2 separate regions of the Homo sapiens genome follow, and region 2 is linked to region 1. Evidence: fine-mapped expression QTL. Tissue or cell type: lung. Region 1 holds a variant in brackets; the other region holds the start of a gene. All regions are shown on one strand. Distances are between the middles of the regions.

Region 1 (8,100 bases):
GACACGACAGAGGACTGCGGACAAAGAACATCAACGTAGACTCTCCCATGGGAACCAGCCCTGGAGCGCGGCGAGAAGCAGCCACAAAGCTCAGGCCAGGATCACAGACCACCGGGGCCGCCCCAAGGGCCAGTGGTCTCCCAGGCAGGCTGAGAGGCCACTCAGGTGCAGTGGGGGGTGGCATGCCACCTACTGGGGCAGGGGGACCTGCCTGCCTGGAAGCCTCCCCGCTGGCCATGGGTTCCACCTGAACACAGGAGCTTGGCGAAGCACATGAACCCCTGTGACCGCTGCACCCGGGGGTAGAGGACAACACTCTATGGGCGCCGACCATGTCCCCGTCCCCTTGTCCCCGCAGTCTTACCTCCTGCTGCTCCTTCAGCTGCTTCTTCTGGGCGTCTGAAAGCTCTGTGACGCCCACTAGACCCACAGGCTTCCCCTTCTCATAGCCGAGCCCCTTGAGGTCCTGAACTGGAAACCAAAGACACAGGGTAGTCAGAGCCTGACAGGTGCACCCCGATCTCGCTCCTGCGCTGGGGTGTGCTGTGAGTCTCACACCTTCATGACACTCCAGGCACACGGGGACCTCATATCATTACTGTCAGTGCCACGTGGTACGTGACGGCCTCGGGGTCCCGCTGTGTGCTGCCACGTGCACCCCCGCATCTTACGTCCTTGTGACCTCTCCAGCCAGGCTCTACGCACCACCACATTGCAGATGTGGACACCAAGAATCAGAGGTTCCGGGACTCACTCAGGGTCACACAGCTAACGAGTGACAGGGCAGGAATTTGCAGAGCCAGAGACAAGAGAGCTGAGACGGCATGTGGGCAGCATGCATGGGCGCACGCACAAACGGGCTCTCAGAAGGCAGCTCCGTTGCTAACAGACACCAGGTGTAAGCGCGCACAGATTCAGAGTCTGGCGTAAGACTCAGCTGTGCGACTCCCTTAGCTCCTTCAGGGGAGGCAGCCAACCATCCTCAGAGCAGCTGACATTTAATTTGGCATCAGCTGTGGAACTTGGCAGGCTCCAGTAACACTGACACATAGAAAGATGCTGCAACAGCCCCATCCGGGTGGCAGAAACCACCACCCCTCGGGCGGTGCGGTGCTTCCCGGGGGAGAAGGTGAGCAAAGGGGTGCAGCGGGCCCTCTGGGAAGGGAAAAGATTTGGGTCCTTCCAGCTCATCAACACTCGGGCTTTGCCGCTAAGAATGGCCCACATTTGCACTCTTAGTCCTTCCTTGGTTTACAGGGCACTGAGGGATGTGGGGGAGCCCTGTTGGGGAGACGCAGGAGCCGAAGTCTGAGCATCTGGTTGATTGCCTTAGAGCATGCCCACAGTCCCTTTCCCCCAGGCCCACTCCACCACATGAGCGGGCGGGTGAGGGCTGCCATGCTCCCTGAGGACATGGATCAGTGGGACTTGAACCTGGGCCTCAGACTTTGGAGCCTGTTCTGTCCAACTAAGCCACAGGGCGACTTCTTCACCTGCTGGGTGTCTCAGAGCTGGGGTGTGTGCGCATTGAAGCACCCGGATCTAAGCACTAGGGTTCGGCACTTGAGTGACAAACCAATCCTAGGTACCCTCCACCCTGGCTGCAGTTGCTGGCTACAGCCCTGGTAAGCATAAGAATCTTCATTCAGTAGCTTTTCTCCTTGACCTAGAATCTCTGAGGCCCTTGGGGCCAGGGAGGCACCGAGAAAGCAATCATCCCTGAATTGGACGAGCAGGTCCAAGAGGCTGGCCACCCGACCTGGGAAGGCTGTCGCCTTCCCTTTTGGGGTCCTGTCCTCATCTTGCAAACACAGGTGATGGCGCCACACAACAGGGCACGTCGGACTCCTCCATGCACCTGTGTGTTGAGCGCCAGTGAAGGTGGAGTGAGGGGGTGATGTTTCTGCTCCACAGTGCAGGCTGCATAGCTGCATAGTGGGGCACCATATGACATGAGATAGTGGGTGTCAGTCACTGATTATCATCTGCAGAATGCAATGACAAGAGACCACCCCCCAACCCTTGTAGGTTTGGTAAGAAAATGAGAGACCAGGCCATAGGCTGGCCCTCCCCGAAATTGCTGCTAAGAAGGGAGAGGTGAAAAGGTGATTGTGTAAAACTGTGGTAATTATTGTGCTTATCGTTGTCTGTCTCTTGAACTTTCTTTCATTTTTCCCGAGATGGAGTCTTGCTCTGTCGCTCAGGCTGGAGTGCAGTGGTGCGATCTTGGCTCACTGCAACCTCCGCCTCCCAGGATCAAGCAATTCTCCTGCCTCAGCCTCCCAAGTAGCTGGGACTACAGGCACGTGGCACCACATCCAGCTAATTTTTGTATTTTTAGTAGAGACGGAGTTTCACCATATTAGTCAGGCTGGTCTTGAACTCCTGACCTCAGGCGATCTGCCCACCTTGGCCTCCCAAAGTGCTGGGATTACAGGCGTGAGCCACCACACCCAGCCTCCTGAACTTTCTGTGACAAGAAAGAATCCAAGTACTGGCCGGGAGTGGTGGCTCATGCCTGTAATCCCAGCACTTTGGGAGACTGAGGTGGGAGGATAGCTTGAGCCCAGGAGTTTGAGACTAGCCTAGGCAACATAGTAAGACCCCATCTCTATTTATGTTAAAAAAAAAAAAAAAGAGACTCAATTCAGACCCAAAGACACAAATACAGTCAGGAATCACTTCATGGAGGGGACCATTCTGGAAATGCATCATTAGGCGCCGTTACCAATGTGTGAGCATCACAGACTGTACCTCCACAAACCTAGATGCTACCGCCTACTGCACACCTACACTAGATATTACAGTTGACCTTGAACTACATGGGTATGAACTATACAGGTCCACTTAATATGCTGATTTCTTTCAATGAATATATTGAAAAAATTTTTGGAGATTTGCAACAATTCGAAAAAAGTCAGATGAACCACGTAGCCTAGAAATACTGAAAAAAAAATCAAGAAAAAGTTAGGTGTGGCCAGGCACGGCGGCTCACGCCTGTAATCCCAGAACTTTGGGAGGCCAAGGTGGGCGGATCACAAGGTCAGAAGATCGAGACCATCCTGGCTAACACGGTGAAACCCCGTCTCTACTAAAAATACAAAAAATTAGCCAGGCGTGGTGGCAGGCGCCTGTCGTCCCAGCTACTTGGGAGGCTGAAGTAGGAGAATGGTGTGAACCCGGGAGGTGGAGATTGCAGTGAGCCAAGATCGTGCTACTACACTCCAGCCTGGGCGACAGAGTGAGACTCCATCTCAAAAAAAAAAAAAAGTTAGGAGTGTCAATGAATGTATAAGATATATGTAGATGCTAGTCTGTTTTATCACTTACTACCATAAAACATATACACATTGCAGAAAGTTAAACTTTATCAAAACTTATGCACACAGACTGTACATAATGTGTTTTGCAGTCAAGAGAAATGTAAACAAATGTAAAGATGGTAGATGAAATCTTTTTTTTTGGATATGGAGTCTTGCTCTGTCACCCACGCTGGAGTGTAATGGTGCAATCTCGGCTCACTGCAACCTCCGCCTCCACCTCCCGGGTTCAAACAAATTCTCCTGCCTCAGCCTCCCGAGTAGTTGGGACTACAGGCACCTGCCACCATGCCCAGCTAGTTTTTTTTTTTCCTTCTTTTTTTTCTGTTTTTGAGACAGAGTCTCACTCTGTCATCCAGGCTGGAATGCAGTGGTACGACTTCGGCTCACTGCAACCTCCGCCTCCTGGGTTCAAGAG[A/G]TTCTCCTGCCTCAGCCTCCCGAGTAGCCGGGACTACAGGTGGCACGCCACCACACCCAGCTAATTTTTGTATTTTTAGTAGAGACAGGTTTCAGCATACTGGCCAGGCTGGTCTCAAACTCCTGACTTCATTGATCCGCCCGCCTCGGCCTCCCAAAGTGTTGGGATTACAGGCGTGAGCCACCACGTCCGGCCAATTTTGTATTTTTAGTAGAGACAGGGTTTCACCATATTGGCCAGGCTGGTCTCGAACTCCAACCTTGTGATCTGCCCGCCTTGGCCTCCCAAAGTGCTGGGATTACAGGCGTGAGCCACTGCACCTAGCAGATTAAATCTTAACTGCATAACATTAGCTGTAGTGCACACGGTACTACTGTAATCATTTTGTAGCCTCCTGTTGCTATTGTAATGAGCTCAAGTGTTGAGAATATCTGCTTAAAACACCACATGACACTGATCATCTCTGCACAAGCTGTTTGTCCCTTTAGCAAATTGCATATTGCGGTAAAGAGACATCTCTCAGGGTTCTCAAGTATTTTTCAGGTTTAGTGCAATATAGTAAACCTTGAATAACATCATGGGTCCCATAAAAATTGCCACTAGTCAAGTGACTGTAGTCCCAGCTACTCGGGAGGCTGAGGCAGGAGAATCGCTTGAACCCCAGAAATGGAGGTTGCAGTCAGCCTAGAGTGTGCCATTGCACTCCAACCTGGGCAACAGAGCAAGACTCCATCTCAAAAAAAAGTGCCACTAGTGATGGCGGAAGTGCTCCCAAGAAGCAGAGAAAAGTCAAGACATTACAAGAAAAAGCTGAATTGTTTGATATGTGCCATAGATTGAGGTCTGCAACTGCAGTTGCCCACTATTTCAAGATAAATGAATCCAGCATAAGGACCACTGTTAAAAAAAAAAAAAGAAGAAGAGAAATTCACGAAGCTGTTATTGCAGCTATGTCAACAGGTGTGAAAACCTTGCACTTTCTGTGAAGTAACTTTTTATCTCACTTTGAAAATGCAGTTTTTATGTGTATAGGACTGCTATCAGAATGACACACCTACAAGGTTTAATATGATTTAAGAAAAAAGCAAAGTCACTATATGACAATTTAGAACAAAAGCAAGGCGAAGGAGCGAAAGCTGGAGAATATAATGGCAGCAAAGGATGGTTTGACAGGTTTAGAAAGAGGTTTGGCTTTAAGAAGATGTCAGGATAACAGGAACAACAGCTTCTGCCCACCTAGAGGTGGCAGATGAGTTCCCAGATGCCATTAAGAAAATCATTGAGAAGGAAAGATATGCATGTGCTCAAACAGGTTTGTTTTTTTTTTTTTTTTTAGATGGAGTCTCGCTCTTTCGCCCAGGCCGGACTGCAGTGGTGTGATCTCGGCTCACTGCTGCCTCCCGGGTTCATGCCATTCTCCTGCCTCAGCCTCCCGAGTAGCTGGGACTACAGGCGCCCGCCACCGTGCCTGGCTAATTTTTTGTATTTTTAGTAGAGACGGGGTTTCACCGTGTTAGCCAGGATGGTCTCGATCTCCTGACCTCGTGATCCGCCCGCCTCGGCCTCCCAAAGTGCTGGGATTACAGGCGTGAGCTACCGTGCCCAGCCTCAAACAGGTTTATTTTGAAATGGAGTCTTGCTCTGTCACCCAGGATGGAGTGCAGTGGAGCAATCGTGGCTCACTGCAACCTCCGCCTCCTGGGTTCAAGCGATTCTCCTGCCTCAGCCTCCCAAGTATCTGGGATTACAGGAGCCTGCCACTACACACAGCTAATTTTTTGTATTTTTAGTAGAGATGGGGTTTCACCATGTTGGCCAGGCTGGTTTCAAACTCCTGACCTCAAGTGATCCACCCACACTGGCCTCCCAAAGTGCTAGGATCACAGGCATGAGCCACTGTACCCGGCCTCAAATAGGTTTTTTAATGCAGACATAAGTGCCCTATTGGGGTGGGGGAGCCAAAAAAGACATTAGTAAGGAAGAGGAGCAAACACCAGAATTCATTTATTTATTTCTGTTTGCTTGGACACAGGTTCTCACTTTTTTGTCCAGGCTGGAGTGCAATGGCGTGAACATGGCTCACTGCAGCCTCAATCTCCCAGGCTCAAGTGAACCTCTCACCTCAGCCTTCCAAGTAGCTGGGACTACAAGTGAACACCACCACACCCGGCTAATTTTTGTGGTTTTTTGTAGAGACAGGGTTTTCTCATGTTGCCCAGGCTGGTCTCAATTCAGGCCTCAAGCGATCCGCCCACCTCGGCCTCCCAAAGCACTGGGATTACAGGCATGAGCTACCGTACCCGGCCAAGCACCAGAACTTAAGGCAGGATAACGCTACTGTTTTGTGCAAATGCAGTTGGGTTTATGATCGGGGCTGCCCTTATCTATGAAGCTGCTAACCCCTGAGTCTTAAAGGGAAAAGATAAACACCAGCTGCCCGTCTTCTGGTTATACAACAAGAAGGCCAGGGCAGGACAGCCATGGTGGCTCACGCCTGTAATCCTAACACTTTGAGAGGCCAAGGCAGGAGGTAAAAATGCCTGGACAACAAAAATTCTTTTTCTAGATTGGTTTGCTCCTGAAATCAGGAAGTACCTTGCTAGTGACTGCTTGTTAAAGTTCTTTTGATATTGGACAATGCCCCTGGCCACCCAGAACTTCATGAGTTTAACACTGAAGGCATCAAAGTGGTCTACTGCATCCAAACAAGGTCTCTACTTCAGCCTCTAGATTGGGGGGTCGTAAAAACCCTCAAGGCTCATAACACACGTACTCTATGGAGAGGATTATCAAAGCTACGGAAGAGAACCTCAGCAGAGCGAACATTATGAAAGTCTGGAAGGGTTACACTACAGGAAAGGCCATCAAGCCTGAAACAATAAATTCCTGCTAGAGAAAACTGTCTTCAGATGTGCATGACTTCATGGGATTTATAACAGAGTCCATGAAGGAAATCGTGAAAGAGATTGTAGAGACAGCAAAAACGGGTAGAGGGTAAGGGATTTCAAAAGATAGATCTTGGAGAAATTTAAGAACTAAAAAGCTGGACATGGGTGGCTCATGTCTGTGGTCCCAACTGCTTGGGAGGCTGAGGCGGGGAGATCACTTGAGACCAGGAGTTTGAGTCCAGCCCGGGCAACATAACAAATCTCTTGTCTCTATAAAAAAATAAAAATTAAATAAAAATTTAAAAAAATAGGTCTGGCCAGGCGCAGCGGGTCATGCCTACAATCCCAGCACTTCGGAAGCCCGAGGCAGGTGGATCACCTGAGGTCAAGAGTTCGAGAGCAGCCTGGCTAACATGGCGAAACCACATGTCTACTAAAAATACAAAACTAGCTGGCCGTGGTGGCACATGCCTGGGTGACAGTGCGAGACTCTGTCTCCAAAAAAAAAAGCAAAACAACAACAACAACAACAACAACAACAAAATAGGCCGGGCAAAGTGGCTCACGCCTGTAATCCCAGTACTTTGGAAGGCTGAGGCAGATGGATCATTTGAGGTCAGGAGTAAGAGACCAGCCTGAGCAACATGGTGAAACCCTGTCTCTACCAAATACAAAAATTAGCTAGGCATGGGCACACACTTGTAATCCAAGCTGCTCGGAAGACTGAGACGGGAGGATCCCTTGACCCCAGAGCGCAGAGGCTGCAGTGAGCCGAGATCGTGCCAATTCACTCCAGCCTGGGTGACAGAGTGATACCGTGTCTCAAAACATAGGTGAGGCGAGGTGGCTCACACCTGTAATCCCAGCATATTGGGAAGCTGAGGTGGGCGGATCACTTGAAGTCAGGAGTTTGAGATCAGCGTGGGCAACATGGTGAAACCCTATCTCTACAAAAAATACAAAAAATTAGCCGGGCATGGTGGTGCATGCCTGTAATCCCAGCTACTCGGGAGGCTGAGGCATGAGAATCGTTTGAACCAGAGGGGCAGAGGCTGCAGTGAGCTGAGATTGTGCCGCTGGACTCTAGCCTGGGCAACACACAAACACTCCAAATCGAAAAATAATTAATTAATTAAAAATAGAAGAGCTAACAGATACCACACTGGAGAAATTAACAGAAGACAGCTGGATGGAAAGGAGTGCTTCCAAATGAGTGCCAGATGATGAGGAAGAAGCCGGAGAAGCGGCAGCAGCACCAGAAAAGAAAATGACAATCTGGTAGGAGGATTCTCATTATTCGAGACTGTTTCTGACTTCTTTTATGACATGGACCCGAGACATGGGCACTGGAACTAAGTGTAAATGGTAGAAGAAGGAATAATACTGTATATAAACATTTTTAGGGAAATGAAAAAGAAGTCAGGCAGAAATTGTGAGATATTCCCATAAAGTTACAGAGTGCCTGTCTCTCCTT
Region 2 (8,100 bases), 380 kb after region 1:
GTTGGGGGTTGGCACCACCTTCACAAAGGTCGCTTTGCTGGGGTCGTACTCCTGACAGAGACAAAGAAAGCATTGTGGCTTAGCTCTTCTCAACCTACAGTTCCAAGACCCCCCCGGGAGGTTTTGGGTGCAGCAGCTCTATGGGTATATTCTGAAATGCCACTGGGCTCTGGTGCTGCCTCTGTCACTCCCTCGTCTGTCATCAGGACAAACGAGACCATCTTGCTGTGCCTCTGGTGCCACACTTAAAGCTGGGAGCACAAGGCTGGGCACGGTGACTCACACCCATAATCCCAGCACTTTGGGAGGCCAAGGTGGGCGGATCACTTGAGATCAGGAGTTTGAGATCAGCCTCGCCAATGTGGCGAAACCCTGTCTCAACTAAAAATACACAAATGAGCCGGACACGGTGGTGCACACCTGTAATACCAGCTACTTAGGAGGCTGAGGCAGGAGAATCCCTTGAACTGGGAGGCGGAGGTTGCAGTGAACTGAGATTGCAACACTGCACTCCAGCCTGGGTGGCAGAGTGAGATCCTATCTCAATTAAAAAAAAAAAAACAAAAAACCAGCCAGGCACAGTGGCTCGCACCTGTAATCCCAGCACTTTGGGAGGCCGAGGTGGGCAGATCACGACGTCAGGAGATTGAGACCATCCTGGCTAACACGGTGAAACCCCATCTCTACTAAAAACACAAAAAATTAGCTGGGCGTGGTGGCAGGCATCTGTAGTCCCAGCTACTTGGGAGGCTGAGGCAGGAGAATGGCGTGCACCCAGGAGGCAGAGCTTGCAGTGAGCCGAGATTGCACCACTGCACTCCAGCCTGGGCGACAGAGCAGGACTCTGTCTCAAAATAAAAAGGCTGGGTGCAGTGGCTCACACCTGTAATCCCAGCACTTTGGGAGGCTGAGGCAGGGGGGATCACGAGGTCAGGAGTTTGAGACCAGCCTGGCCAATATGGTGAAACCCCGTCTCTACTAAAAATATAAAAATTAGCTGGGCATAGTGGCAGGCACCTGTAGTCTCAGCTACTCGGGAGGCTGAGGCAGAACAATCACTTGAACCTGGGAGGCGGAGGTTGCAGTGAGCCGAGATTGTGCCACTGCACTCCAGCCTGGGCAACAGAGCCAGACTCCATCTCAAAAACAAACAAACAAACAAACAAAAAAACCCCAAAAAACAAAACAAAAACAAAAACAACAACAAAAAAAGCTGGGAAGCTGGGTGCACAGACAGCACCTAATGCCCAGGGCTCTGCTCTGCTGAAGGTGACATGAACTCAAATAGGAAGAACGCTGCCAGGCACCCACCCAGTACGTCCTCAATTCACGTGAGCCAAGCCCCCGCCCCATCACAGGCCCCCGGCCTCCTGCTCAGCTCTGCCTCTTCCACCAACCCTGCTCACTACACTCCACAGCTCCACACGCACATGGGGCTCGATCGTGCCTCAGCAAAGGGCCTTGGCATGTGCTGTTTTCTCTGCCCGGAATACACAGTCACACAGCTCCCTTGCTGCCTCAGGCTTTTGCTGAAACATCACCTTCTCAGGAGCCCCTCCCTGGCTGCCCCATCTAAAGTTCCCGGCAATGTCCCATCCTGTCCTGATGTTAGATGTCATCTCTGTTTGGCATCAACTGCTGACTATGAGTTCTCCCTCCCAGTAACACCACAAAGGCAGGGGGATTTGCCTGTTTTGTTCACTGCTGTTTCCCCAGCACCTAAGACACAGAAATGTTGAATGGAACTCGTTCAGTGCTCCCTGGACCCCGTGAACCGCCATCCATTCCTCTGCTGCTCTGCTAGACCGAGCTGCATGGAGACGAGCTGCATGGAGATGGGGGGAGCACAATGATGACCCGCAGAAACAAAGCGCCACCGCACGGGTGGTTCATGGGCCTCCAAAGCAGGCAGCAAATAACAACAATCACATAACTACAAACGTGACGTCACGGAAGAAAGGTACAAGAGGCTATACGCTGTGATGGCCCCAGGGCGGGCACTCTGCAGATATCATCTCCGCTTCTCAAGATGGCACCCAGTAGTTGTTAGTTACGGTTCTCAGTTTACAGAAGGGGGAAACTGAAACTCAGAGAGCAGAAGCGGCCCTTTCTGAGATCTGAATCAAACCCAGATCCACCTCTCCTGGCTGATGGCTGTTCAGCTCCTCCCACTTCTCCATCCCTGGAGAGGAAGTTAAGAGCTAAGCTGCTTAGCTGCAGGTCAAAAGGCAGCTGAAGTTTGAGCGGTGCCACAGTCCCCTTAACCCCTCCTTTATTTTGTCCCTCATTGGTGTCTTTCATTGTACTACCTCAAAGCTACCACGTTGAGCTCCTCCCCTGGGATAGATAAGTCTTTTTGAAGGACAGAACAGGTTGTCTCTCAGGAGAGGAGAATGAGGATTCTACCCACATTCAGAGCCAGCCAGGGTGGGGGGCTTCTGTCTTTCTGTAGCCCTTGATGCTGTTCCCTTTTCCTCTTCTTGAGGCAAACACACTCCTGGAATCAGAGGGGAAGCTTCCTGATATACCTCAGTGTCCATGGCTCCAAACCTGCTGGTGTCACCTGAGGCAGGCCCAGAGAGAGACGACACAGTCACTGCTTCAGGCCCAGGGAAGCTCACAGTCACCAACTCCTCCGACGACACTTGGTCACTCAGAACTCTAAACTGTGGGTCAGGAGCGCGACCTTGCTTGCTGTTGTATCCCCGACAGAACTCAGTATCACCACCCTCATTTTGCGGAAAGACATCATGTAAATGACTCGCTCATAAACACCTCTGCCTCTCTTCAACACTGTAATTAACTGCATTTCATGCTCCTTTCCATCACAGTATGGAAGACCACTAAGCACTGGACAGCAAGACTTGGTTCAGTCTAAGAACCAACTAAGCTTCATAGATGGGGGAAACCTATCCCAGTGATCTCGCCTTACACTTTGAAAACCAAGGTAGGAGACAGATGAGATGGAAGGTAGGGCCGTTTCCAGAACAAGAGTAGTCGCTAATATGGGAACTAGTATAAACAACTCCTACCTGACCTGGGCGACGTATGCTGGGCCCTGCGCTAAGCCTTTTACAAGTATTACATCACTGAATCTAAATGACCATAACAGGGAGGACTTCAGAAAAAGGAAATAACCCGCACCAGGCATGCACAGCAAGTCAGCAGTGGGGTCATGATTAAGCCTGCGCCAAAGTGTAGAGGGTGCCCCTGGGAATCCAGGCCAGGCAGATGAGTGGCCCAGGTCGCGATGGTGACCGACAGGAAGGCCGCAGCTGGGACCCACGGCGAGGCTCGACCGTGCTGGGGGTCGGGCTCGCGTGTACACACTTACCGGGGTGCAGGTGAGCGCGCAATGCGCGTGCACAGACCAATGCCCCGAGAGGACAGTGAGCGCGTGCGCGAGGCAGATGGTGGCAAGCACGAGCAGCGCAGCTTCGGGGATCTGCACCCAACTGCTGCCCCAGCCCCAGCAGCCAGCGGCTGCGGCACCCAACCAGGCCGGGTAAAGCAGCCCGGCGAATGGCAGCACCGTGAGGCGCCGCAACAGCGCCAACCGCCGGTACGGCCACACGGCAGCCACCAGCTCGTCACCGTTCGCTATGAGCGCCGGCCCGGCGGCAAGGAGCGCGCGCGGCTGCGGCCCGGGCTTGGGCTGCCCGTCAGGCCGGACCCCGCAAGGCCGGGCCCCGCAGGGCACCGCGTTGCCCACCGCCGCCGCTGCCGCCATCTTTCCTAGCGCCGCGCTCACTTCCGGGCAGAGGAACGCCTCACTTCCGAAGTTTTACTTCCGGTAAGCCCTGAGCGCCGCCATGGCAGCCTGGACTAGGAAGAGCCAGGGCAACAGAACAGGCTGGCCCCGGCAGGGACTACTTCGGGTGCCGCCATGACAGGCTGTGGCCGGAAGAAGAGGCTGGGCGTCGCCATGACAGAGAGGGACTGGAAGACCTAACGGTGCCTGCCTCCGCTGCCACGCCGGACTGAGACCGGAAAAGACAAGGCCGGCAAGGCGGGCTTGGGCGCCACCATGACAACCTGAACCAAAAAAAGCGAGCCCTCCTCCTTGACTACACCAGCACCACCTGTCACCAGGGGCGAAGCCTGGACCCTGCGGAGGCGGGGTCGGGAGCTTCGGAGTTCAGGAGGCGGGGCCCGGTGCGGGGGGCGGGGCTTGTGAGGGGCGGGGTCGGGGACCGCCCCGGAACACAACCACACCGGACAAGAGCCTTAATGTGATAGATAAGAATTACAAATACTAGCCGGGCGCGGTGGCTCACGCCTGTAATCCCAACACTTTGGGAGGCGAGGCGGGTGGATCACCTGAGATCAGGAGTTCAAGACCCAACATGGTGAAACCACGTCTCTACTAAAAATACAAAAATTAGCCGGGCGTGGTGGCACATGCCTGTAATCCCAGCTACTCGGGAGGATGAGGCAGGAGAATTGCTTGAGCCCGGGAGACGGAGGTTGCAGTGAGCCAAGATTGCTCCACTGCACTTCAGCCTGGCCAACAGAGCAAGACTGTCTCAAAAAAAAAAAAAAGAAAAATGAATTACAAAAACCACTTTAGGCCGGGCGCGGTGGCTCACGCCTGTAATCCCAGCACTTTGGGAGGCCGAGGTCAGGAGATCGAGACCATCCTGGCTAACGCGGTGAAACCCCGTCTCCACTAAAAATACAAAAAAAAAAAAAAAATTCTCCGGGCGTGGTGGCGGGCGCCTGTAGTCCCAGCTACTCCGGAGCCTGAGGCAGAATGGCGCGAACTGGAGAGGCAGAGCTTGCAGTGAGCGGAGATTGTGCCACTGCCCTCCAGCCTGGGCGACAGAGCGAGACTCTGTCTCCAAAAAAAAAAAAAAAAAAAAAAAGAAATTACCACTTTAACATAAAAAATGAAAAACTGGTGTTTACTTGAAATTATATACTTCTAGGCCGGGCGCGGTGGCTCACCCCTGTAATTCCAGCACTTTGGGAGGCCGAGGCGGGCGGATCACGAGTTCAGGAGATCGAGACCGTCCTGGCTAACACAGTGAAACCCCGTCTCTACTAAAAATACAAAAAATTAGCCGGGCGTGGTTGCAGGCGCCTGTAGTCCCAGCTACTCGGGAGGCTGAGGCAGGAGAATGGCCTGAACCTGGGAGGCGGAGCTTGCAGTGAGCCGAGATCGCGCCACTGCACTCCAGCCTGGGCGACAGAGCGAGACTCTGTCTGAAAAAAAAAAAAAAAAGAAATTATATAGTTCTATATTATTAACTGTACTGTTGCATAAATGCTATTTGAACAAAACCACAATAGGACTACTTAACAGTACCAATTAGTAGGATTAAACAGTATGTGTGACAAACAGTAACTATTTTATGTTTCTTTTTGTCCTCTGATACAGCAAATTTATTTAAACTTAAAATTTATTGGATATTTAAATTTTGTAGCTTATATTGTTGCATATTCTTTTTTTAATTTTTCGAGATGAAGTCTCACTCTGTCGCCCAGGCTGGAGTGCAGTGGCGCGATGTCCGCTCACTGCAAACTCCACTTTCCGAGTTCAATCGATTCTCCCATTTCAGCCTCCCAAGTAACTGGGATTACAGGCGCATGCCACCGCTCCGGCTAATTTTTGTACTTTTTTTTTTAGACGGAGTCTCACTCTGTTGCCCAGGCTGGAGTGCGGTGGTGCGATCTCAGCTCACTGCAACCTACGCCTCCTGGGTTCCAGCGGTTCTCCTGCCTCAGCCTCCCGGGTAGCTGGGACTACAGGCGCGTGCCACCATGCCTGGCTAATTTTTTGTATTTTCAGTAGAGATGGGGTTTCACTATGTTGGCCAGGTTGGTCTCGAACTCCTGACCTTGTGATCCGCCCACTTTGGTCTCCCAAAGTGCTAGGATTACAGGTGTGAGCCAGCGCTCCCAGTCTAATGTTTTGTGTTTTTAGTAGAGACGGGTTTCGCCATGTTGGCCAGTCTGGTCTCAAACTCATGGCCTCTAATGATCTGGCCGCCTCAGTCTCCCAAAGTGCTAGGATTACAGGTGTGAGCCACGGTGCCCAGTCCTAGTCTTGTTTTGTTTTCTTGGGACGGAGTCTCACTCTTGCCCAAGCTGGAGTGCAGTGTTGCAATCTAGGCTCACTGCAACCTCTGCCTCTTGGGTTCAAATGATTCTCCTGCCTCAGCCTCCTTAGTAGCTGGAATTACAGGCATGAACCACCATGCCTGCTAATTTTTGTATTTTTAGGAGAGACAGGGTTTCACCATGTTGGCCAGGCTGGTCTGGAACTCCTGTCCTGGCCTCAAGAGATCTGCCTGCCTCGACTTCCCAAAGTGCTACAGGTGTGACCCGCTGCGGCCACCCACTGCATATTCTGGTTTTTTTTTTTTTTTTTTTTTTTGAGACGGAGTCTCACTCTGTTGTCAGGCTGGAGGCTGGAGTGCAGTGGCGTGATCTCAGCTCACTGCAACCTCTGCCCTCGGAGTTCAAGCGATTCTCCTGCCTCAGCCTCCCGAGTAGCTGGGATTACAGGCGCCTGCCACTGCACCCAGCTAATTTTTTGTATTTTTAGTAGAGACGGGGTTTCACCTTCTTGGCCAGGCTGAGTCTTGAACTCCTGACCTCGTAATCCACCCGCCTCGGACTCCCAAAGTGCTGGGATTACAGGCGTGAGCCACCGGGCCCGGCTCTGGTTTTTTTTTTTTTTTTTTTTTTTTTTTTTTTTTTTTTTTTTTTGAGATGGAGTCATGCTCTGTCGCCCAGGCGCAATGCTGTGATCTCGGCTCACTGCAACCTCCTCCTCCTGGGTTCAAGCAGTTCTCCTGCCTCAGCCTTCTTAGTAGCTAGGATTACAGGCATGCGCCACCACACCTGGCTAATTTTTGTAATTTTAGTAGAGACGGTGTTTCACCATGTTGGGCAGGCTGGTCTCCTACTCCTGACCTCATGATCCGCCTGCCTGGGCCTCCCAGAGTGCTGGGATTACAGGCTGAGCCACCGTGCCCGGCTGCATATTATTAAGATACATGACTTCGTAAAAGGAGAAAGGAAATGTAATAGGACTTAATAATCACATAGTATCAAATAAGATAATCTTCAGTAAAAATAGGAATGACATGTTTCTGTCCCATGATACAGTTCGATATACTTACTTTTTCAGTTTTTTCTCCAATATTAATTCTTTCCCATACAAGGTCCAAGCTTCTGCTCTTGGAGTCTGGGACTGGACCCCTTTCTGGTAGCAATACCTTTATAGAATGTTTACTCCAGGCCGGGCACGGTGGCTCATGCCTGTAATCCCAGCACTTTGGGAGGCCAAGGCGGGCAGATCACGAGTTCAGGAGATCGAGACCATCCTGGCTAACACGGTGAAACCCCGTCTCTACTAAAAATACAAAAAAAAAAAAAAAAAAAAAAAATTGGCCGGGCATGGTGGCACATGCCTGTAGTTCCAGCTACTCGGACTCGGGAGGCTGAGGCAAGAGAATCTCTTGAACCTGGGAGGCAGAGGTTGCAATGAGCTGAGATCGTGCCACTGCACTCCAGCCTGGGCGACAGAGCCAGACTCCGTCTCAAAAAAAAAGAAAAAAAAAGTGGTTTACTCCAGTTTTTCCCTGCATTTAATAATTTTGTTCCCTTTAAGGCATGTTTTTATTTTCTTGGCTGAAAAGGAGTAGCCTGAGAAGAAGTAACGTGTAGGAAGCCTTGGCCATGGGACCAATAGCCTCATAAATTCCTGATCTCTGGAGGACATCAGGGCCTCCTACCTGTTCCATTGTGACCTGGGAGTCTCTCCAGCTCCAAGGTGGAGGGATGGCTTCACTGAACACGGAGTCTGGAATTCCGTGCACACTCATGTGACCGGTGTTCCGGAAAAAGAAGCAGGAGGCGGCTGGGCGCGGTGGCTCACGCCTGTAATCCCAGCACTTTGAGAGGCCGAGGCCGGCGGATCACGAGATCAGGAGTTCGAGACCAGCCTGGCCAACATGGTGAAACCCCATTTCTACTAAAAATACAAAAATTAGCCGGGAGTGGTGGTGGGCGCCTGTAATCGCAGCTACCCGGGAGGCTGAGGCAGGAGAATCGCTTGAAACCGGAAAGCGGAGGTTGCAGTTAGCTGAG

Evidence for each region. PIP is the estimated chance that this variant, and not a neighbour inherited with it, causes the effect.
Region 2: ATP13A1 starts here. The variant in region 1 is fine-mapped to the expression of ATP13A1 in lung (GTEx, PIP 0.98).

Annotation. Positions count from the first base shown.
Region 1 is chr19:19,279,821-19,287,920 of GRCh38, forward strand. It overlaps SUGP1 (SURP and G-patch domain containing 1), which reads right to left. Exons shown (of 14, transcript NM_172231.4): 9 at 365-471. Among named protein-coding and RNA genes, the nearest start is that of TM6SF2, 11 kb to the left of the region's middle. The variant A/G (reference allele first, on the strand shown) is at 3,739.
Region 2 is chr19:19,659,937-19,668,036 of GRCh38, forward strand. ATP13A1 (ATPase 13A1) reads right to left here and starts at 3,740. Exons shown (of 26, transcript NM_020410.3): 1 at 3,335-3,740; 2 at 1-51. The coding sequence starts at 3,730. RefSeq lists enhancers at 1,486-2,133, 1,727-2,206, 2,907-2,956, 3,088-4,070, 3,342-3,443 and 1 more and silencers at 3,477-3,736, 4,177-4,226.